Homo sapiens: one gene and its partners. The protein of the gene in region 1 interacts with the protein of each later gene in a pairwise test. Each region holds a gene or a part of one and is shown on either strand. Other genes may lie near its edges. The genes, in order: COIL, PTS, ARMCX1 and POLR3C.

What was found.
Region 2: the proteins of COIL (region 1) and PTS interact in binary tests that used the Homo sapiens proteins (3 or more experiments, as listed by UniProt).
Region 3: the proteins of COIL (region 1) and ARMCX1 interact in binary tests that used the Homo sapiens proteins (3 or more experiments, as listed by UniProt).
Region 4: the proteins of COIL (region 1) and POLR3C interact in binary tests that used the Homo sapiens proteins (3 or more experiments, as listed by UniProt).

What each region holds. Positions count from the first base shown.
Region 1 is NC_000017.11:56,951,044-56,958,083, forward strand, and holds part of COIL (coilin), read right to left. Parts: intron 1,401-7,040; exon of another isoform or gene 1,067-1,400; intron 721-1,066; exon of another isoform or gene 605-720; intron 1-604. UniProt on the Homo sapiens protein: Component of nuclear coiled bodies, also known as Cajal bodies or CBs, which are involved in the modification and assembly of nucleoplasmic snRNPs.
Region 2 is NC_000011.10:112,229,400-112,234,485, reverse strand, and holds the end of PTS (6-pyruvoyl tetrahydrobiopterin synthase), read right to left. Parts: intron 4,279-5,086; coding exon 4,256-4,278; intron 3,861-4,255; coding exon 3,804-3,860; intron 1,324-3,803; coding exon 1,253-1,323; intron 1,055-1,252; coding exon 931-1,054; 3' UTR 513-930; downstream 1-512. UniProt on the Homo sapiens protein: Involved in the biosynthesis of tetrahydrobiopterin, an essential cofactor of aromatic amino acid hydroxylases. Catalyzes the transformation of 7,8-dihydroneopterin triphosphate into 6-pyruvoyl tetrahydropterin.
Region 3 is NC_000023.11:101,545,616-101,553,558, reverse strand, and holds the start of ARMCX1 (armadillo repeat-containing X-linked protein 1), read right to left. Parts: upstream 3,013-7,943; 5' UTR 2,899-3,012; intron 2,589-2,898; 5' UTR 2,535-2,588; intron 1,991-2,534; 5' UTR 1,926-1,990; intron 751-1,925; 5' UTR 629-750; coding exon 1-628. UniProt on the Homo sapiens protein: Regulates mitochondrial transport during axon regeneration. Increases the proportion of motile mitochondria by recruiting stationary mitochondria into the motile pool. Enhances mitochondria movement and neurite growth in both adult axons and embryonic neurons.
Region 4 is NC_000001.11:145,841,194-145,844,936, reverse strand, and holds the end of POLR3C (DNA-directed RNA polymerase III subunit RPC3), read right to left. Parts: intron 2,599-3,743; coding exon 2,517-2,598; 3' UTR 535-2,516; downstream 1-534. UniProt on the Homo sapiens protein: DNA-dependent RNA polymerase catalyzes the transcription of DNA into RNA using the four ribonucleoside triphosphates as substrates.

The DNA of each region.
Region 1 (7,040 bases):
CATCTCCAGGACATAGTTATATACTGAGATGACTCTACAAAATGTAACTACCATCAGTCAATGAAAAAATGTCACATCACTTAAAGACAAAAGACTCTTTCTGGCAAAATGGCCTATGTAGCATTACTCACAGTCAACTTTCAAATGGCTAGTTTTATTTATTGAATAGCTACTGCATCCTAAACATTTTTAATACGTTTTTCTCTAATCTAAACACCAACACAAAGTAGGTATTTTTAATTTTACAGATCGCAAAATTACAGCTCAGACAAGTTACTTGCCCCAAATCTAGAGCTGATAAGTAGCAGAAACGCAATTCAAACTTCAGTTTGTCTAACTTCAAACTCACAATCTTTCTACAATATGCATGTCACCTACCCTAAAAGGTGATAATGCTGATTATCCATTTTGTTTCAGAATGTGGGCTTCTTTCTTTAATAAGATTTTACTCCTGTTTTAATTTAGGTGAATACTAAACAATTTATGTTCTCTAGGGTAGTGACAGCCATCTGTACAATTCCACAACACTCTGTGAAGCTTAATTTTATGTATCAATTTGTCCGGGCTATTGGACGTCCAGATATCTGGTTAAAATTACGCTGGCTCTTTCCATACCACCACAGTGGTGCACATGAATGTCTTGGCTGATGCTCTCAAGAGCATCAACAAAGCTGAAAAGCAAGGTAAATGCCAGGTTCTTATTAGGCCGAGCTCCAAAGTAACTGTCCGTTTTCTTTTTTTTATTTTTATTTTTCTTTTCTTTTTTTTTTTTTGAGACGGAGTCCCAACTCCGTCACCCAGGCCAAAGTGCACTGGTGCATTTCTCAGTTCACTACAACCTCTCCCTCCCAGGTTCAAGAGATTCTCGTGCCTCAGCCTCCCAAATAGCTGGAATTACAGGCGCCTGCCACTATGCCTCGCTAATTTTTGTATTTTTAGTAGAGATGGGGTTTTGCCATGTTGGCCAGGCTGATCTTGAACTCCTGGCCTCAAGTGCTCAAGTGATCTGCCTACCTTGGCCTCTCAAAGTGCTGAGATTACAGGCATGAGCCATCGCACCCAGCCCCATCGTCCAGTTTCTAACTATAATGATGAAGCATGGTTACACTGGCAAATCTGAAACCACTGATGATCATAGAGCTGGGAAAACTGTTGTGAACCTCACAGGCAGGCTAAACAAGTATGGAATAATCAGCCTCAGATTTGACGTGCAACTCAAAGATCTAGAAAAATGGCAGAATAACCTGCTCCCATCCCACCAGTTTGGTTTCACTGTACTGACAACCTCGGCTGGCATCATAGACCACGAAGAAGCAAGACGAAAACACATAGGAAGAAAAATCCTGGGATTCTTTTTATAACGATGTAATACGTATTTACAAATATATTGCCTCAGTGGAAAAAAAATTATGCTGGGAGTATGTGCAAGGTTGTTTCTGGATGAGATTAACATTTAAATTGCTAGACTGAGTAAAGTACATTGCCGTTTCCAATGTGGGTGGGCCTCATCCAACCCACTGAAGGCCTGAATAGAACAAAAAGACTGAGTAAGGGAGAATTCATTTCTCTGCCTGACTCTTCAAGCTGGGACATCGGTCTTCTCCTGCCTTCAAACTCGAACTTGAACTAGAAATATACCATTGGCTCTCCTTGGTCTATAGCTTACTAAGTGAACTTAGGACTTCTCAATCTCCACAATCCTATGAGCCAATTCCTTACAATAAATCCCATGTCTGTGAGTGAGTATTTGTGTGTGTGTGTGTGTGTGTGTGTCTTACTGGTTATGTTTCTCTGAATAACCCTACTTCATCCAAAATTTCACTATAGGAAAGCAATTTTGTTCCTCCATCAACAGGCAACAGCTAATCCTAGTATGTGCAGTCTGATGATGATGGAAGTCTTGAGACTGTCCTCAATGTTAAGCAAATTGTGAGTACTCAAAAATGCCTGTTGGCCAGGCACAGTGGCTCATGCCTATAATCCCAAAACTCTGGGAGGCTAAGGTGGTAGGGTGGCTTGAGCCCAGGAGTTTAAGACCAGCCTGGGCAACATAGGGAGACCCTGTCTCTACAAAATACAAACATCAGGCTGGGCACGGTGGCTCACGCCTGTAATCCCAGCACTTTGGGAGGTCAAGGTGGGTGGATCACAAGGTCAGGAGATCGAGACCATCCTGGCTAACACAGTGAAACCCCGTCTCTACTAAAAATACAAAAAATTAGCCAGGCGTGGTGGCGGGCGCCTGTAGTCCCAGCTACTCGGGAGGCTGAGGCAGGAGAATGGCGTGAACCTGGGAGGTGGAGCTTGCAGTGAGCCGAGGTCACACCACTGTACTCCAGCCTGGGCAACAGAGCAAGACTCCGTCTCAAAAAAAAAAAAAAAAAAAAATACAAACATTAGGTAAGTATGGTTGGTGCATGCCTGTGGCCCAGCTACCTGAGGTAGGAGGATCACTAGAGCCCAGGAGGTCCAGGCTGCAGTGAGCTGTAATTGCGCCACTGCTGAAAACACACATTATACTTACAAGGCATTTACATTCAGCTATATATTTCATCAAGTTTTTTCAGTGGCCAGGGAAAGATGTAGACAATCATATTTGAAAATAAAGAACAACTGGTGAATGATAGGAGCATATGTGACAAGCATTCTTTAAATTTTTTAAGGCATAGTAATCCTGTGGATTTACCTCAATGCGGTAGTTGAAAAAAATCCTCAATTATTTGTCAGAAAACTAACTATACAGACAAACAAATCAAGATAAAATAAGAGTTACTGATATCAGGAGTAGGAGAAAGAGACAAATAAAATGCTGAGTGACCAGGGATTTTAAATTATAAAAACACATTCCCCTCTGTTCCCAGCTTGGCATCTAATAGCAAGGAAATAATTCTTAATCTGGCAAAAGCCAGTTTGGCATCCTGTGAATCTAAGAACTACCATGGAAGCGCTACAATATCAGATTTTTTTCTTGACATTTCTGATCAATTTGTTTTCACTTGTAGCAATGATCCAAGCTTCAATTCTGAGATGACCAAATAGGACCAAACTTTCTGTCAAATGTTGAAAATGGTTGCAAGTCTCTGTTCAGTCACTGTGGTTTATTAAGGCCCTGGAAAACAGCACATGTAACATCCAGTTGATGAGAACCCCTTCCTTTCCTGGAAGCTGGCAACACCCTCACGCCTTCCAAAACAGCTCTTAGCATCGTCTCATCCATTCTTAAGACCATGCATTGGCCGGGCGCGGTGGCTCATGCCTGTAATAATCTCAGCACTTTGGGAGGCTGAGGTGGGCAGATCACAAGGTCAAGAGATCGAGACCAGCCTGGCCAACATGGTGAAACCCAGTCTCTACTAAAAATACAAAAATTAGCTGGGCATGGTGGCATGCGCCTGTAGTCCCAGCTACTCGGGAAGCTGAGGCAGAAGAATCGCTTGAACCCAGGAGGCAGAGGGTGCAGTAAGCCAAGATCACGCCACCGCACTCCAGCCTGGCGACAGATAGAGACTCTGTCTCCAAAAAATAAAAAAAAAAAGACCATGCATCTACAGCTATTTGGCTTGAAGGTATGACCTGTGATTCCTGCAGCCCCACTACCTACTGTTCCCCAAGAGAATAATTTCAGTTTTTAAAATATTAAGATTATAAACTGGTGTGGTGGCACATGCCTGTAATCCCAGCTACTCAGGAGGCAGAGGGAAGATCACTTGAACCCAGGAGTTCAAAACTAGCCTGGGCAACACAGTGAGCCCTCATCTGGGAAGAAAAAAAAAAAGAAAATATTAAGATTGAGAGGCAAAATACCATCCAGAGAAAAAGAAATGGTTCTCCTGGGTCTGCTTAGTTACCATTCCTGTCAGGTGCACCTTCCCTGGCAATATTCTCTATTTCTTTACCTGGATCACAGACAAAGAATAGAGCTATCCTTTTACAAACAAAAGTGCATGCATTTGTCCTTTCACAAGTAGAAGTGAATTACCTAGGTCACTAGTGACGAAAGAGTTGATTCCAAAAAACAGATCCCCACTTTTCTTTTTTCGAGATGGAATTTTGCTCTGTCGCCCAGGCTGGACTGCAGTGGCATGATCTGGGCTCTCTGCAACCTCCTCCCCTTGGGTTCAAGCGATTCTCCTGCCTCAGCCTCCCAAGTAGCTGGGATTCCAGGTGCCTGCCACCACGCCTGGCTAACTTTTTGTATTTTTAGTAGAGATGGGGTTTTGCCACGTTGGTCAGGCTGGTCTCGAACTGACCTCAGCTGATTCGCCCGCCTCGGCCTCCCAAAAGTGTTAGCATTACAGGCGTGAGCCACCATGCCCAGCTATCCCCACTTTTCATTCTAACTCTTTGCAAGGCAAACTGAGTGGTATTATCAAAATCTAAGTCCACCCTTAAAATCTACAATTTACTGTCTAGGATTCTGTTATGCAGAAACACTGACATGCCCATCTGTCCAACCTGATGCTCCCTACCCATTGCCTGCCAAGGCCAACGTGAATGCCTGGGTTCAAATGCTATTTCTGCCACTGTAATTTTTTTTAAAATCATTACCTCAGCCTTTCTCATCTATAAAAATGGGGATAATGACAATAATTACAGTACTCAGTGACTTATTATGCAGAGAGAGCATGCCTGACTCAGAACAAGTGATATCCAAATGTTAGCTCTAATTTTTATTAGTACAATGAATGTTGTTAGTCCTATCATGGGTAAGTTGGTGAATTTTTAAAAGTTGTACAAGTCTGTACAACTTTTCTGGAAGCTAATTTGACAGTACTTATCAATTTTTATATGTACCTTCTCTTAGACCAATGAGTATTTCTTCTAAGAATAAATCCAACTGAATAATTTTCCAAGTACAAAAAAAATACAAGAATATTCACTAAAGCACTATGTAGCAAACAGAAAAGAATGACATACATCACACACTTTATATACTGAGATAGCCCATGATAGGTAAAAAAGCAAGGTGCAGAACAGTATGTTATGATATTTGTAGTTTAAAAGTATAAGTACATATGGTTGCACATGTATAGAAATCTGGCTCTAAGATATACCCCATACCCCAAACTTAACCAAGGATACTTCTGGAGAGTGAGGTGTGGGAAAAAGTATATGATAAAAGTAGTAGGAAACTTTTTATCTTGGACTATCCAAGGAGCCACTAACTACAGCAATATGAAATGAGAACTCGTCTCTAATATTTTGTTTTGTTTGAGATGCGGTCTTGCTCTGCTGCCCAGTCTGGAGTGGAGTGACACGATCATGGCTCACTGCAGCCTCAACTTCTGAGGCTCAAGTGATCCTCTCACCTAAGCCTCCCAACTAGCTGGGACTACAGGCATCCATCACTGAGCCTAGCTAATTTTTTTTGTTTGTTTTTTGGGGTTTTTTTGGTAGAATAAGGGTCTCCCTGTGTTGCCCAGGCTGCTCACAAACTCCTGGACTCAAGTGATCCTCCCACCTCGGCCTCCCAAAGTGTTGGTATCACAGGCATAAGCCAACATGCCTGGCCCATCTCTAACATTTAATCAATGTGTTTTTTTGTTCGTTTGTTTGTTTGTTTTTTGAGGTAGGGTCTCACTCTGTCGCCCAGGCTGCAGCGCAGTGGCACCATCTCAACTCACCGAAGCCTTTACTTCCCAGGCTTAAATGATCCTCCCACCTCAGCCCCTCAAGCAGCTGGGACTACAGGCATGTGCCACCATGCCCAGCTAATTTTGTTGTATTTTTCTGTAGACATGGGGTTTCACCATGTTGTCGAGGCTGGTCTCGAACTCCTGAGCTCAGGCAATCTGCCTGCCTCAGCCTCCCAAAGTGCTGGATTATAGGCATGAGACATGGCGCCCAGCCTTCATCAAGTATTAATTGCCAGAGTTAAAAGGGTCAGGGAAGACAGAATGCACTGTTTCCTTACAGAATTGATTCTTCAAAAGGGAGTTTCTCAGGCCGGGGGCAGTGGCTCAGGCTTGTAGTCCCAACACTTTGGGAGGCCAAGGCGGGAGGACTACTTGAGCCCAGGAGTTTGAGACCAGCCTGGGCAACTTAGTGAGACCTCTCTACTAAAAATAAAAAACTGCACCTGTAGTCCCAGCTACTCAAAAGGCTGAGGCAGGAGGAGCCCTTGAGCTCAGGAGTTCGAGGCTGTATAAGCCAAGGTTGCGCCACTGCACTCCAGCCTGGGCAATGGAGTGAGACCCTGTCTCAAAAAATAAGGGAGTCTCTCTGAATCTACTGTAATTCTGAGGGCTGCACGATTAAAAAAAATTTAAAAATTAATTAAAAAAAATTAAAAACCGCCAGACACAGTTGCTCACTCCTGTAATCCCAGCACTTTGGGAAGCTGAGGAGGGCAAATCACTTGAGGTCACAAGTTCGAGACCAGCCTGGCCAACATGGTGAAACCCCATCTCTACTAAAAATACAAAAAAATTAGCCTGGCATGGTGGCGGGTGCCTGTAATCCTAGCTACTCGGGAGGCTGAGGCAGGAGAATCGCTTGAACCTGGGAGGCAGATGTTGCAGTGAGCCAAGATCGTGCCACTGCACTCCAGCCTGGGCAACAGAGTGAGACTCTGTCTCAAGAAAAATAAATAAATTAATTAATTAATTAAAATAAAATAAAAAAACCAAATCTGCCAACACCCTGATCTTGGACTTGTAGTCTCCAGAAGAGTAAGAAATAAATTTCCATTTTTTAAGCCATACAGTCTGTGGTATTTTGTTATAGCAGCCCCAGCAAACTAACACAGGGGGCTCCAAGCCAATAGAAGCACCTCCTCCTCCTCCCAGGACAGTTAGAGACCACCTTTAGGAACTCGCTGTCAGAAACCTGGGGGCAGATGAAGCCAGATTCCTGGGGCTTAAGAGAATGGGCTATGAGGAAACAGCAGTGGAACACAAGTGTGTGGTGCATCCAAAGCCTCAAAGGCTGTTTCTCAGGATTCCCACAACCTAGTTCCACTTTTCCTCATTAGCCTTCTCAGTACTGCCAATGATCCCAACAGAATGCTTTGGCTGGTCAGACTCATCTTTTTACCAAGT
Region 2 (5,086 bases), on another chromosome or scaffold:
ATACTTTCTTGTGGATTTAGTCACGAGGAAAAGATCCCAGAGAAGAATGCCAAGCATATAGTAAGTTTAATAATCAGAACAAAATGGGATCAATTAGGAAAAACTATATACAGGAAATATTTTATATGGTAGTTGATCCTTTTTATGCTGACTATTTTTTAGAGTTTAAAATATGATTATTCTGCAGTCTTCTGAGTTGAAATTATTCAAGTGCCCATCAGGTTCAGAAATTCAGAGGAGTATACTGAATAATTTACTGATATTCCATGATATGTTTAATGTGTTGTTCCTCACTAGCAATTCATAGTTCAATACGCTGTGCAAAATTGTAATGAATGATGTGCTCTAAAGCAGCATTTCCATCAATATTTGTACGTGTATCCACAACAGATGCCTCACATGATTTGTGTGTCTAATTTTCACTGAATCCACTTATGCCTTCAGCACACCCAACAAGTAGTAATCAAGAGAGTTCAATCTATTAAATATACATATATATATTGTCTCCAGACTTTGTGGTCACTTGAATTTTATTTCTTTAAGATTCACCTACTCGAAGTCACATAAGCATTTTAACCATGTATATTATACCAAGTAAAAATTAATACTAAAATGAGGTAATGGAGAAAACAAAATTAGATTTCTTTTGCTTTCAAATAATCCCACACCAAAACATTTTGTGAAAATGAAGTGATTTTTAATTTATAAATAAAAGACTCTCTAAATGATTTTCAGGATGTATATTACAAGTTTAGTTTTAAATAGACTTAAATTTATAACAGGTCTTACAATGATTTCAATAAATAGGCACTCCAGAGCACAATGTGTACGTACAACAATCACGTGTTGACCTCTTAATATTCCAAGGGGATCAAAATCTTTTTCAAACACAGAAAGAAACTGGGCTTTGTGCAATGCTAACCCCAATAGCTATTCTCCTTTATAAACCACAATATTATTGTCAGTTTCGTATACTTTTACTTTATAAAGAACTCCTACAGGAAGAACTTTCTGGAGGTTGTCCCAGATATAAACAGCTACATTTTCAGTCGTGCTATAAGAAAAAAAAACAAAAACAAAAAAAATTCAAAATGCAAACAATAAAATTTCATGTTTAATATTTACAGAAAATAGAAATTCTAGTTTCGAAAGATTTCATTAAATTAAAACTTCAGAAATCACACAACAATCAAAGTATTCAAATCAATTCTTGTTTTACAATCCACATAAGGCAAGATACAGTGCCACCCACCTCACCACATCTGCAAAGTATGGCACATCCATATCCAGATTCTTATGATCAAGGGGCTGCATAATCGCCTCCTAGAGACAAAACCAAGGGAAAATATCATTGACTCCATTTACGACTCAAATTCCAAATTGTTCCACTTATGCCTCTAAACCTCACCTTATCACTTAGCCACTAACTAAATATTTGTAAGTACTAGATTTGAGTCTTACAAGGCAACTTTACAAAATTTCAAGTTGTAAAATAAAGTCAGGCCCAGCTGTCGGTAATGATTAGGAATCCTTGTTACTGAATAAAAAGAGGTGAGAAACCAAAAAGCAGAGAATTCCTGGAGCTTTCTCGCAACACAAGCCATTGTAATTCAGAATTCAGTTTAACACTTTGTGAATCCTGTCCAAACAGTTAGCACAAATATTTTTCCATAACACTGTCACACCTACGGAACAATGCCACAATATCATAAGGACAAAGATCCAGTGACTACTACATTTTATAAAGCAGACCTAGACTGAAATTATGTAAGTAGTTCTAAATTTTTGCTATGAGGAATAATTTAAGAATGATCTTGGGCTCATAGAAGGAAAAATATATATATGTAAAGACTATTACTCCCTAATGCTCGTGTATATTAACATAATGTTTTTCCTCATCATCAGCAAGGATTAAATTGCCTCATTCTTTCTAGGTTTTTGCTTTTAGCTATTGCAAAAAATCTAAGCATCTGTGAAAAAAAAATGTAATTTTCCATAGGACGTAGTTTGAAGAAGGGTACATTAATAACAGTAACAGCAATCATTTCTTGAGAAAAACTAGAATCATACAAAAAGAGTAAGTCCTAGATCAAACAGTTATTGAAATATATCCAATGAAGGGATGTTCCACATGAATAACAAGAAAACGGGCATCCTTGCTTCATCTTCAATCCCAGTTCCAGTCCCAATTTCTCCATTAAAGCCTCTTATGCAGGGCTTTTTGTTTTCTTTTGTTTTGTTTTTAGAGACAGGGTCTCTGTCATCCAGGCTGGAGTGCAAGTGGCATAATCATAGCTCACTGCAGCCTTGAACTCCTGGACTCAAGCAATCCTCCCCCCACGGTAGAGCTCTAACTTTACTCTACATGCCATGATAAGCCACTTTTACTGATGAAAGTGTGTGGTGTCCTTCAGGCATACAAAAGCAGAAAACAGCATAGAGAAGCCCTCCTCCAGTATTTAGTCATATGTTGAGGCCTTTTATGTTGCTGTCTTGTCTCTTTTCTTTCTTTTCTTTTCTTTTCTCTTTTTCTTTTTCTTTCTTTCCCCTCCCCTCTCCTCCCCTGTCCTCCCCTCCCCCTCCTCTTCTCCTGTCTCTGTCTCCCTCTCTCTCTCTCTCCGCCTGCCCCCCAACCCCTGCCCCATAAATGCATGCTGGCCCTATCTGTATAACTTTCCTAAAGTATTTTGAGCATAGTGCTGTTTCTTCATTCACTCATTCTTCTACTCATTTATTAAATCAACAGTTATTTAATAATATTCTTCACCTCCTAGAAAAAGTAATGTATACACTCTGTGGGCTACATCTCATTCATCTTTGTACACTTAGCTCAAAAACTGATGCGAAGTAGAGAAATTTGTTGAATATATGAATAAGTAATGTGAAAGAAGTAATCATTACTAATAACATCATTTTAATCAAGCAAATGTCAAATCTCAGAACAAACCTAAGCTGCAAGTGAAATGACAGCATAATAAAACAGCTGGAAGGAAAGAAATCTACTCCCAGCTTTGCAAATGACTAGCCATATGACCTGGGGCAAGTCAGTTAACTGTTCAGCATCTCTCAATCTTAATCTATGGGTTGAAGAAGTTGGTCTGAATAATCTCCAAAGTCTCTTACAGTGCAAGAATTCTATAATGACACAATCAGTTAAGTTCTTCATTGAACACCTTGTGTGTTATCTCTATGAGGTACTGCTCTGGTGAGTTTATAATAAAGCTAGAATGAACAACACAGTGTGGTGTCTAAATCTATGATCAAAGGTACAAGGAATATTCAGAGAGGGAAGAGAAAGCTCCAAGGAGAAGGCCAGGAGCAGTAGCTCATGCCTGTAATTCCAGCACTTTGGGAGGTCAAGGCAGGAGGTGTCTGAGACCAGCCTGAACAACATAGTGAGACCCCTACCTCTACCAAAAAGAAAAGTTTGCATTGGTTCTGTGCCTATTTAAAAAAAAAAAAAAAAAGAAAGACAGTAAGTCTCAAGGAGAAAGCTATGTCTTAAAAGAAATGGAGAATTTGTTAACTGAAGGAAATCAGGATATTCCAACAAGGAATACAAGGTGAGCATGTTATATTTCCTCCCATCGCTGTAACACAACTGTGACTAATTTCCGTTAAGTCACCAAAACACCTTTAGAGGCCATGCGAGCAGTTCTTCCAACTATTCCCCAACACCCACATCCAGTTCTATTCACAAAGTCATGGAACCTTAGGAGATAACTGGTTGGGGAGGTAGATAGGGGGCCACCAAATATTACAGTTAGGGAATAGCACATAATAAGCACCCAACATGCCATTACCTCCATATATTTTTTGAGATCAGCCAGATTCATAACCATTCCCGTAGCAGGGTCAATCTAAAGAATAAACAAAGGTGAATATTACTGTGATAGGCTCTCCATATTAAACGGCTGGCAAATTATTAAAGGCAGTACAATGTGCAGAGACTGTGCCCACATTTGCACATTTGCCTTCATCCCAGAGATAATCATTGACCTCAGCATGGAAGCACCATGTACTTCAAGCATCCTTTTCATTGTATAGCCCTTCTACCTGTCCACATACAGCATATTAAAGACAACACTTTGGTAGAGGAGAGGCCTGGAATGGCGGCAGCTCACCACACACACATATACAAGGGCCAACAATGAAGCAATACTGACTGGAACAGTTTTCAACACAGAATCCACCACACTGGCTGAAAGAGAGCCCAGCAATCTGCAAAAACCACACAAATATTTTCTGCACATACCTCTCCATGTACTGTCACCACAACTATGGAAAGAAAACAAAATACAAAAAAAACAGCATGACTTTCAACAGATCAACATCCAAGCACAAGTTAGCAACATACAAGCACAAGTTGGCAACATAAATTATTAGATCTGTCCCCAAAAGCTATACTTAAATATTTACCCCAAAACATCTGTTATTTTAGTTAAGATTTTTTTTTTAGCAACCAAAGCAAGACACAATCGAGACAAAGGAGCTTAGTAGGAATGTTGGCTAAGCAGAGGCACTCGGCCAAGGCTGAAAAGGGTGTAAATTCTGCTTATGTTAATGCACTAGGGAGCATCAAGATGCTGCTCAGTCTCTGCCTGTAGAAGTAGAAAATGTCTTTCAGGTGTCCAGCTACACAGCAAGCTGGTCCAATACTGAGCAGTACCTTTCTGAACAAGCAATACTACTGGGCCTTAAATTCTTGTCCCCTTACTCACATGAATGTATACAAAGTCTAAAGTAATGCTTTGTAAATTAAAAAGTGCTTGTGAGAAGCATTTGAAAAATCTTGGCCAGGCGTGGTGGCTCAAGCCTGTAATCCCAGCACTTCGGGAGGCCGAGGCGGGCAGATCACCTGAGGTCTGGAGTTTGAGAGCAGCCTGGCCAACATGGTGAAACCCCATCTCTACTAAAAATACAAAAATTAGCCAGGCATAGTGGCGGGCGCCTGTAATCTCAGCTACTCGGGAGGCTGAGGCTGGAGAATCGCTCGAACCTGGGAGGTGGAGGTTGTAGTGACGGGAGATCACACCATTCCAGCCTGGGCAAAAAGAGTGGAACTCCATCTCAAAAAAAAAAACAA
Region 3 (7,943 bases), on another chromosome or scaffold:
CCTTTTGGAGGTCGGGAGCACTCAGAATATCATCAATTTTATAAGGAAAGTTGAACTTGCCTCTCCGGACAGGCCATGTTGTAGCTGGAGCCCTGGTGCTCTTACTTCGGGCCTTTCCCTTGGATTTTCCACTTGCCCTGCCCCCGGCCCTAGATCCACTCCTGGTGGGGTGGCAGCCTCCACCCCTGCCTCCTGGGCAGGGTAAACTCGGTGCAAGGGTCCTGTTCCCAGAGATGGTACCCACCCTAGCCCCTTTGCCTGCCTTTGCACTTGCCTGTTCCTTCAGCGTGTTGAAAAGGGCCTTGGCCTTGGCCTCTAGGCCACCTCCGCTGTGGGATCCTGAATGGGCCTTCTCTTTTACACCCGGACAATCCTCGAGTCCCAAACTCACCTCAGGCTTGACCTCTGAATCACCCTGAAGTTTGGCCCCAGACCCTGCCCCAGCGTTAGTTTTAGCTCCTTTCACAGTCTCAACCCCAATCTCTGAGGTGTCCGTAGACTCCTCGTCTTCGTCCCAGATTTTCTCGTTCTCGTCTCTTCCCCAAGCCAGTCTGTATACACAGTAGCAGGCACCAGCCCCGATAACCACACCAGCGGCCACGCAGCCAGCTTCCCGAGTGCGGCCCATGGTATAGCTGGGACAAATCTCTTAACCCGAGCACAAAACAGGCTCGCTCTGGCCCAGAGAAGCGCGCACACGTCGCGGGCGGAGTCTGCAGCTACTGCGGGCCGGCTCTGAGGCAGCTCGACCTAGGAATAAAGGATGCATTTCAGATTTCAGGCTCCTTTTTGTGTCTTTGAACGCAAACAGACTGAAACAACAACAAAACAAACAAACGTACAAAAATACAGAGATACTGGCAGAGACTCGGGGCTTGATATCTAGATCACTGATTCCTTTCTTCCACCCGGAAGCTAAGTTTGGAAATTTTCCCCGCTTAAAGACTCTCCAACCTCACGTTCCACCACCCCACCCTAGAACGTTAAAGTTCCCTGCCACCCCTGCCCTTCCAGATGTCCTGTGAACAGTGGCGCCCTCACATGCACCCACAGAGGTCCAGGCAGTTTTTTTTCCTTCTCTTTCTTGCTTCCAAGTGCACTGCTTCGTGCAAACCTGCAGACCAAGGGCGCGGGGAGAGGGGTACTGAGAGCTCTGGGTACATATAGATCTCACCCGGGACGGGGCACACATCCCTCTTCTGAATTCCTAGCCCTTTACAACTGCCTTGCCCAATGTTTCCCGCCTTCGGTTACCCTCCTCTCCTCACAGAGCTGCGGCTTTGGAATTCATTATCTCCCTCCCTCTTCCTCCTTCGATGATTCCTCTAACCCTCCATTCCACCTCCACCCCTACTCCCATCATTGGCATCCTCCGAAGATGTCGCCACACATTTTCATCGTTAACATTTTCCTTGTAACAAAATGAAGTGAGAATATCTAAAAGCCGTACTGGCGTGAAATGCCTAAAGGTCTCCAACTCCGCCCTTGCCTCCGCCAACTCCTCCATCTCAAATGTACCAGGACACCGCCGCCCCCCCCCCCCACCCCGTGTCATTATACCAACTACCTCTGCTCCGGAGCAATTTCTTACCTCCCTCACCTCGGTTTCCGCTTCCACTAAACCTTCAAGACTGACAAACTTCAGAAGTGAGTGCTTGGTCGACGGACCAACACCAAGGACCCTGTACCCCAAACAGTAATTTGGAGTAACGTCCTCCCAACCCCTGGACTCTCTTGACGCCCACCCCTTCTCAGCTATTTTCTTCCCTGTCTTGTACTTGCAGAACAATTTCTTTTGCAAGCTCCGAAATGGTGTAGATAAGAGGGAAGGAGGGGGATATGGAAGGGGTCCACGGGCCCATTCGAGTTGCAGTCGCCACCATGCTCCACCCCCAAATAATGCCATCACCCTTATTATGACCTACTTGGTTCTTGACAACTTTGCGTTTCTTCCTGCTCCAAGGGTTGGACTGGCCTCCGGCCCCAAGATCTGCAGACACAGGCAACAAGGCAGAAACTGAAGGCTCAGCGGACAGAAAAGCACTTCGGGGAGTCCCAATATCCACTTCTCCTAATTCAGGGTCCTGGCTGTCAATGGATTTTACCTTTTTGTTTCTCACCCTACCCTCACTTCTCTGGACTCCGCTGACACCAGCCCTGTCGCTTGGTAGTGTTCCCCTACCCCCGTCCCCGCCCCCGGCCCTCACTCCCTCCCGCAGCCCCAGCGGTCGGCCATTTTCCCAGCAAAACCACACCCCTTTCAAACCACTGGAAGCGGGGCGGGGCGAGGGGGGATATGGAAAATCCGAGGAGAAAAACAAAACCAACCGATCTCTTCTATTCCTCTCCCCAACGCACCCTACCCGCAATCACAAGCACTTTTCCTGCAGCCACTGTTACATCCTCTTTTACTGAAGAAAAAAAAAATGGCAGGAAGATTGCTTGAGAGTCGGTAAAGGGCCCAAGTTAAGGCAAGGACCTCAGTCATCCCAGTCCTTCTGGGCGCCGCGGGACAGCTCCAGCTTTACACTGACCTGCAGGGATTCCAGGCAGACTATTCCTTTGTTCCCAAATGGCACAGCGTCCTACTGAAAGAAAAGGGGTATGACTGTCAGACGCACAGCCCCAAGATTCTGGCTTGGTAGATGGGCCAGCACACAGGACATGAATCCGAATATCCGCCCTCCCTGATTCAAGGCCCTGGATGTTAAAGGTCCCACGACGCCCGAGTCTGGGGTCGCCCCTGGAATCCGGCCCCAAGGTCTACCATTTTTGTTCTAGAAAGGGCAAGGGATACTGCAAGGGTTTGGAGAAAGTGAACTGTGCTCCCCCTTCGGCCTCCACGGTTCACTGCCCGCGCCGCAGGGATCCCCTGGCAACGCCCATCCACACACAAACCTGCTGGGATCCAGGCAGAACCTCGTCCTCCTTCCCCCAGGCCACAGGCCCTCTCGCCCTCTGGGCTATAGGAAGAGTGCAACCGGACCAAACGAAGACTAGGATTAGAAGGACGTCTGCACGCGTCGGCTCCAGCTCACGTGAGGGCCACGTCAACCATGAGATCAGGACCCCAATTACCACTCCCATCAGCAGCGCCGCAGAAGCCGGCCCTCCCCTTCCTTCCCTGACACATCAGGTCCTGTCACTCATTTTCCTCTTTGCCAACCCCGGAGACTAGAAGTAGCTTCTCTTTGTGGTGAATTTGCCTTTCTTTGGTTTACAGGGAGAGGCTGTATCTGCTCCCGTGTCCGTTGGCCTTTTCTTCCTCTTCGAGGAATAATTTTTTATCTTCTCTAGTCCCAGTCCAACTGTCTCTCTCTATACCTCCCCCCATCACAAGTCATGAATGTCCTATTTCTTCTGCACCCCTGTAAAATGTGGAGCAAGATGTTAGAAAAGGAGATAGATCGTGGGAGTGTCTTATTTAAACTTTTCTGCTCATTTGTTTTTAAATCAGTAACGCATTACTTTTATATTGAGAAAATAAAATGATGCTATTTTCCTTTGAGTGGAGAGTTTAAACGGGAGAGAAAACCCAAAAGGCCTCATTAATTTCGTTATTTTATTTGTAACAGTAGGAAAATATTTCTACTGGTTACAGCCAATTAGTAGCTTTTAAAACAAAATAACTCATTTTAAAATTGAAAAGTGGGCTGAGGTGGGTGGATTGCTGGAGCCCAGGAGTTTAAGGCTGCAGTGAGCTATGATGTCACCACTGCACTCCAGCCTGGGTGACAGAGAGCAAGCCTCTATCTCTTAAAAAAAATGGATTTTTTTTACATGATCTATGAATTACTCCACAAAGAGACGACCAGTTGTCTAATCTTGGCCATTTTACACAAATAATTCCTTACTTTTTCTATTTTTGAATCAACTTGCAATTTGATAAGTTAAAGCAACACAACCCTGTCTTATTAAATTAAAGAAAAGCATGTATTTAACGTCCCAAAGTCTTGACCGACTGTTATATGAACCTCTTGTGATTTGATGGCTACTCTGATCACCTGCCTCTGAATTGAATTCCAGTCTACCAAGGCTGAGGCACCTGAGGGTGTGAGGGATGCAGCGATGTTCTAATCCTTCCTGCCCTGTCAAGAGCGGAAGAAGGTGCTGCCCTCCCACCCTTCCACATTCCATAGCCTCTCATCCCCTGTATTCAGGCACCCATCTATTGTTCACTCCAAAAATATATATAGATGAGTGACCAAGGTGGTAAATGCCACGTTTACTCAGGTGACCAATCAGAGTAAATACCTTTGGCTCCTTCCCTTCCTTCCCCAAATTCCCACAGAGGTAACAGCAATGCATCGAAGGGCTTTCTGTTCCTACCTACCCCTCTGCCCTTATTCATGGTGCCTGAGTGAGCATTGCTCCTAATACTGTGTGCTGCCACCACCTGACCTGAGAGGTGCAGCCCGCTGGGCTTCTTGCCTCTGGCTTCCTTAAAAAGAGAACCTAATCTTGTTGCAGAGTTACTGCCTGCCAGTCCATATCCACCTTGGTGCCCGCTCAGCCAAATGTATGCCTAAGGAACAATCCCCATGGATTAACCCAGAGTAGGCATTCTCACACGGACAACCTTGTGGACCACCTGCAATTGTGGTCATACGTATATTCATTTTCGTGGAGAAAGGAGCCATAGCTTTCATCAGATTCTCACAGGCATGTATGACTTTTAAAAAATAACTAAGAACTATTAATACTTTCCTGAAAAAAAGCTATATATCCCCTCAATAGAAAATCTACTCCTTCCCAGCACTGTGGGAGGCTGAAGCTGGCAGATCACTTGAGGTCAGGAGTTCGAGACCAGCCTGGCCAGCATGGTAAAACGCCATCTTTATTAAAAATACAAAAATTAGCCGGGAATGGTGGCACGAACCTGTAGTCCCAGCTACTTGGGAGGCTGAGGAAGGAGAATTGCTTGAACCCAGGAGGCATAGGTTGCAGTGAGTTGAGATTGTGCCATTGCACTCCAGCCTGGGCAACAGAGCAAGACTCCATCTCAAAAAAAAAAAGAAAAAGAAAAAGAAAGTCTATTCCTCTCCCCTCTTCTCTGTCTCTAGTTATATACTTATTTTTTTAAGTGCAGAAATCTGTAGAGTAGAATGCAAAACTGCCCTGCAATGCCTATTCTACCACCAAGCACTTTCAATGATATCGACCTTTCTTCCTGCAAATATACAGTATATGTATGTGGATGTGTCAAGTTCCAAGTTGAACAATATGCAAAACAAAACAATTGACATTTACTGCAGTACTTGCAATAAATCTGCACTTTAATTGGAGAATTTACATCTTTAAAAATGGAGTCTTTCTATCCATGCCAACTTTTGAGATTTTCAATAAATGTGATGTTTCTTTATACTCATTTCTTATTATGTTTGTGTTTTGTTTATATGAATGACATTCCCATTATGATTACACATTCTACCTGGTTATTGTTTGTCTCAGGTAAAGTAATTAATTATGATATATTTATCTTTAGTGACCATTCTTATTATTTCTAATAGTTTTTTCATCGATACTTTTGGTTTTTCCAGGTATGCATGCATAATATCTGCAAATGATGATTTTTCATTTCTTCTTTTCCAGTATTTATATTCTTTATTCTTTTATTTTCTGCATGTATTCCATTGACCAGAACCTGCAGAACTAGTTTGAATGATAATGGTGATTGAGGGCCTCCAGATCTTATTCTTGAAGAAAATGGGAGTGTCCTTAGTATTTCATTGTTTAGTGCAACCTGACATTTGCTGTTTGTTTTTCATGTGTTCTTCTTCATCTGTGTATGGATGATTTGGGGGATGCCTAAAGGTGCACTTTTATAACCCTTTATATAAGACTGAGGAAAATTAAATTGTCCATATCATAATACTGGGAAGGAGAGGAAATAGGGAGAGCGGCCACAAGTGCTGAGCTTATGGGGAATGTATTGGTGAGCAAAAACAACACAGACTCTTCTCTCGTGGTGGAAATAAGACCTTAATAAAATGAGCGCATACACACACACACACACACACACACACACACACACACACACACACAGAGAGAGAGAAAAATACTGTAAAGGAAAAAACCTCTGTTAATATCGTTTTTAAAAAAGGGGCATAGTCTGAGGATCAGGGAAAGTTTCCTTGCTGGGGCAGAGAGAGTGAAGTTTTCAGCTGAGATGAAGAAAAGCAGGTGGTAACTAGGAAAAGAGGGGAACAGAAAATAAAAAATCTCAACTTCCCCACCCCTCTGATAACTACTGTGATAACCAATCTACTTCAATCCTAGGATAAATCCTATGAAAACCACTGTTAATTTTTCAGGTGACTCTTTCCAGGTTTTGTTGTTGTTTCACATATATTACTAAAAAATATATGTAGATACATTATGTGTGTGTGTACACATATATCTTTCTAAAATAATTTGGGATTATACTATGCATATTATTCTGCATAACTATTTTTTTCACCTGATATATCATGTGAATCTTTTTAGCAGACACACTAATATTCTGAAGCGTGGATTTACCAGAATTTAACCAATCTTTTACTGATGGATACTTAGCCTCTTCCTAATCTTTATCTATTACAAAGATGCCACAGTGAAGACTTCTGTCTATATATATTTTGGCAACTATGATATTATTTCCTCAAGATAAATTCCTAAAAGTAAAATAATTGTGTCAAAATGGGTGTTCATTTTAAATTTTACCCATGCTGCCAACTTTCACCTCTTAAATTTATATATATATATAGGTCGATCGATAGATAGATATATATATATGCATTCTATGTTGTGCTCCAAATAATTAATTTATTTAATTATAAGTGAGATTAAACATCTTCTTAGAGGTTTGTTAAGCATCTGTATTTATCTTTCTGTGTACTGTCTTTCCTCATTTTTTTACTAAGTTGTTCATCTGTTTCTTACTAATACATAAGAACTTTCTGCAAATTAAGCAAATGAGTCTTTTGACTTCAATAAGTGTTATAAATATTTTCCCGATTTATAATTTTTTGGACTTCTATATAGAATTTTTTATATTTACAGTACAAAATTTACCAACTTTTTTTCTTTTTTTTATTATACTTTAAGTTCTAGGGTACATGTGCACAACGTGCAGGTTTGTTACATATGTATACATGCGCCATGTTGGTGTGCTGCACCTATTAACTCGTCATTTACATTAGGTATATCTCCTTTTTTTATTATTATTATACTTTAAGTTTTAAGGTACATGTGCACATTGTGCAGGTTAGTTACATATGTATACATGTGCCATGCTGGTGCGCTGCACCCACTAACTCGTCAACTAGCATTAGGTATATCTCCCAATACTATCCCTCCCCCCTCCCCCCACCCCACAACAGTCCCCAGAGTGTGATGTTCCCCTTCCTGTGTCCATGTGTTCTCATTGTTCAATTCCCACCTATGAGTGAGAATATGCGGTGTTTGGTTTTTTGTTCTTGCGATAGTTTACTGAGAATGATGATTTCCAATTTCATCCATGTCCCCACAAAGGACATGAACTCATCATTTTTTATGGCTGCATAGTATTCCATGGTATATATGTGCCACATTTTCTTAATCCAGTCTATAATTGTTGGACATTTGGATTGGTTCCAAGTCTTTGCTATTGTGAATAATGCTGCAATAAACATACGTGTGCATGTGTCTTTATAGCAGCATGATTTATAGTCCTTTGGGTATATACCCAGTAATGGGATGGCTGGGGCAAATGGTATTTCTAGTTCTAGATCCCTGAGGAATCGCAACACTGACTTCCACAATGGTTGAACTAGTTTACAGTCCCACCAACAGTGTAAAAGTGTTCCTATTTCTCCACATCCTCTCCAGCACCTGTTGTTTCCTGACTTTTTAATGATCACCATTCTAACTGGTGTGAGATGGTATCTCATTGTGGTTTTGATTTGCATTTCTCTGATGGCCAG
Region 4 (3,743 bases), on another chromosome or scaffold:
AGCTGGGATTACAGGGCGCCCACCACCACGCGCGGCCTTTTTTTTTTTTTGAGACGGAGTCTCGCTCTGTCACCCAGGCTGGAGTGCAGTGGCGCCATCTCAGCTCACTGCAACCTCCACCTCCCTGGTTCAAGCGCTTCTCCCGTCTCAGCCTCCTGAGTAGCTGTGATTACAGATGTGCACTACCCACACCTGGCTAATTTTTAAATTTTTTTGTAACGATGAAATCTCACTGTTGCCCAGGCTGTTCTTGAACTCCTGGCTTCAACTGATCCTCCCAGTGTGTTGGGATTACAGGATTTAGGCACCATCAAAATTATCTTCTAGCTGTTTTGAAATGTACAGTAAATTAATAACTATGCCACCCTGATCTATCCAACACCAGTCTTACTTCTTCAAACTGTATTATCTGTGCCCACTAATCAACCTCTCTTCATCCTCCCCATCCTTCCTAGCCTCTGGTAACTACCAATCTATTCTTTATTTTCTTGAGATCCACTTTTTTAGCTCCTATGTGAGACAGAACATGCAATATTTGTTTCTGTGCTTGGTTTATTTTACTTAACATAATGACCTCCAATTCCATCCATGTTGCTGCCAATGACAGGATTTCATTCATTCTTATGGCTGAATAATACATTTTCTTTAGCCTTTCATCTATTGATGGGCACTTAGGTTGATTCCATGTTTTGGCTATCGTGAATACTGCTGCAATAAACATGGGAGTGCAGGTATCTTTTTGATACATTGATTTCTTTCCTTTTGGAGATATATATATACCCAGTAGTGGAACTGCTGGAGCATAGTTCTGTTTTTAGTTTTTTGAGGAACCTCTGTAGTCTTCCACAGTGGCTGTACCAATTTACATTCCCAACAGTGTACCAGGCAGGGCTCTCCTTTTTCCACATCCTCACTAGCATTCATTCTTTCTTCTTGATAAAAGTAATGAATTGGGGTGAGATGTTATCTCATTGATTTTGATTTCCATTTCTCTGATTAGTGATGTTGAACATTTTTTGATGTATCTGTCGGCCATTTGTGTATCTTCTTTCGAAAACTACCTATTAAGATCTTTTGGCCATTTTTAAGTTGGATTGTTCTTTTTGCTATTGTTTGAGCTCCTTATATATTCTGGTTACGAATCCCTTGTTAAGATAGTTTGCAAATAAAGCATCCTCATCTTTCAAACTATACATTGTCACTCTCTGTGTTCCCTTCCCTGCCTGACCCTTTTCCCTTTCTGGCCTCTCTGTACATAGTGTTTACTCTTCTACTGTAGCACCCCTAATACTTCCTGGTACTTATGTACTTATTTGTCTCCTCCTACTAGACTGTATGCTCAAAATTTATTAATCTTTATATCCCCAAGGCTTACCCCAGTACTTAGCACAAAACAGGTGCTTAGTAAATGATGGTGACTGGCTTGAGGGCAGAGATGGTGTCTTATTTATCTATCCTTGTATGTTGTGTTTAGTATGGTGGCTGGCAATTGTTTGACACTCAAGTGTTTAAACAATTAGAAAACACATTGGTGAGAGAAAACTGAAGATATTATAAAACATCTAACTGCTTTAAATGAATTAAAGCTGCTGGGACAAATTATATCCGTGATACTGAGAGAGAGAATTTAGCGTTGCCAGTTTTAAGGAACCATGGAGAAGAGGAAGGCGCTAATTTACTGTGTGCTTACCATATGCCAGGCATTGAGCTAGCTGTTCTACATACACAGTTTCAGATGTGTTAGAAGCCTGGAGCTGGCAAATGTGGCTTCAGTCCACAGATTCTAGTGTGACTGCTTGGGACAATCCACCTGCTAACCCTGAAAATAATTTTTTCTTCTACTCTGTGATAGTCTTTCACATTCCCTACACTGTGTGTGTTAAAAATTACAGTTCATCAGCCTGGGCAACACAGGGAGGCCCTGTCTCTACAAAAAAATAAATAAATAAATAAAAAATAGCTGGGTATGTGTGGTGCATGCCTGTAGTCCCAGCTACTCCAGAGGCTGAGGTGGAAGGACTGCTTGAGCTCAGGAGGTCAAGGCTGTAGGGAGCTGTGATTGCGCTATTACACCCCAGCCTGAGTGACAGAGTGAGATCCTGTCTCAACAACAACAAATTATCTATCTATCTATCTATCTATCACCTATCTCAACAAAATAAAGAACAGGCATAGACATCTGAAAATAAAATTAACTTCTTAGGAAGTTTCCTATTGCCAGGGATATAGGTAACCATAGGTGTGGGTAACTTCTTTATGGGAACAGATGCATCTGATAGATGATTAACCTTGTTGATTTAAGGTTCTTCCCACTGCCAAGATTTGATGAGGGGAGACTACAGCAATGGATCTAAATATGCCAAATTCTTTCAGGTGTATCCTGGGCTGCAGGGGATAGAGAGGGGGGTTTAGTTGAAGACTCTGCGACTTATCCCACTGCAAATAATGCATCCAGGCACCTCCTTTATTTTGCTTTCCATCCCCCCAGATCTTCTGAGGAAGATGCTTCTTCTGGATCACTGTCTCTTCATGGTGCACTCAATGTAAGACTCCAGCAGGAAGATGGTTTCGTCCACCTGGATCTCACTGGCATCCAACCTGAGTGAAAAGTAAAGGCATTTGCCTAGACTGAATGTTCATTAGCATATTTAAGATTAGAGGTTAGGGTGGGTGTGGCCATGGATAACTGCTTGGTTACCCTTGAGAGTGGATGGAAAGAAAGCAGGAGAACCAGTAGATCATTTTGCTATTTACCGAGCATCTTTATGTGCCAGACACCATGCAAACTGCTAAGAATACAAAATACAGAGCCTCTGTCCTGGGGGAAGGTAGTCTTCATTTGCAATCAGGAAAACGAACGTAAAGGCACAGGTATAAAAGGACCTAGTGTGTTTTAAAATAGCAAGAAACTAAGAGTGTCTGAAGCTTAAAGTGAGTGGTGATTAGGAAGAAATGGAAGCTTCTTCAGCCTGACAAAAGCCATCTAGGAAAAACCCACAGCTAACATCATACTTAATGGTGAAAGACTAAAAGCTTTTCTCCTAAGATCAGAAACAAAACAAAGATGTCTGCTTTTGTACTTCTATTCAACCTTTTACTGGAGGTTCTAGCCAGGGTAATGGGGCAGGAAAAAAAAAAAGTAAAGGCATCTAGATTGAAAAGACAGAAGTAAAACTCTCTCTATTCATGGATGACATAATCCTATTATAAAAAATCTCAAAGAATCTGCAAAAAAACTACTAGAATTAATAAATGAATTTAGTAAAGTTGTGGGATACAAAATCACAACACCAAAGTTGGTTGTTTTTGTATAACACTAGCAATGAACAATCTAAAACTGAAATAAGCGACCACTAAACTAGTATCCAAAAAAATACTTAAGAAATAAATTTAATGAAAGAGGTGCACAAATTGTGCACTGAAATGTGAAGGTCTAGGAAAGAGGTGATGAAGGCCTGCGTGTGGACCAAGATGAAAGGCCAGATTTGAGACACATGACTCAAGTAAAATTAAGCCAGCGCAGTGGCACTTGCCTGTAGTCCCAGCTACTTGGGAGGCTGAGGCAGGAAGACTGTTTGAACCTACGAGTTCAAGGCCAGTCTGGGCAACACAGCCAAAACCCCGTCTCTTAAAAAAAATTTATCAGTACTTGATGAACAAGAGAGTGTATATGGTGATGGAGAAGAAGCTCAGAACATCTTCAGAATTGCTAGTTTACAAAAATAGGTGGATTAAATTCTGTT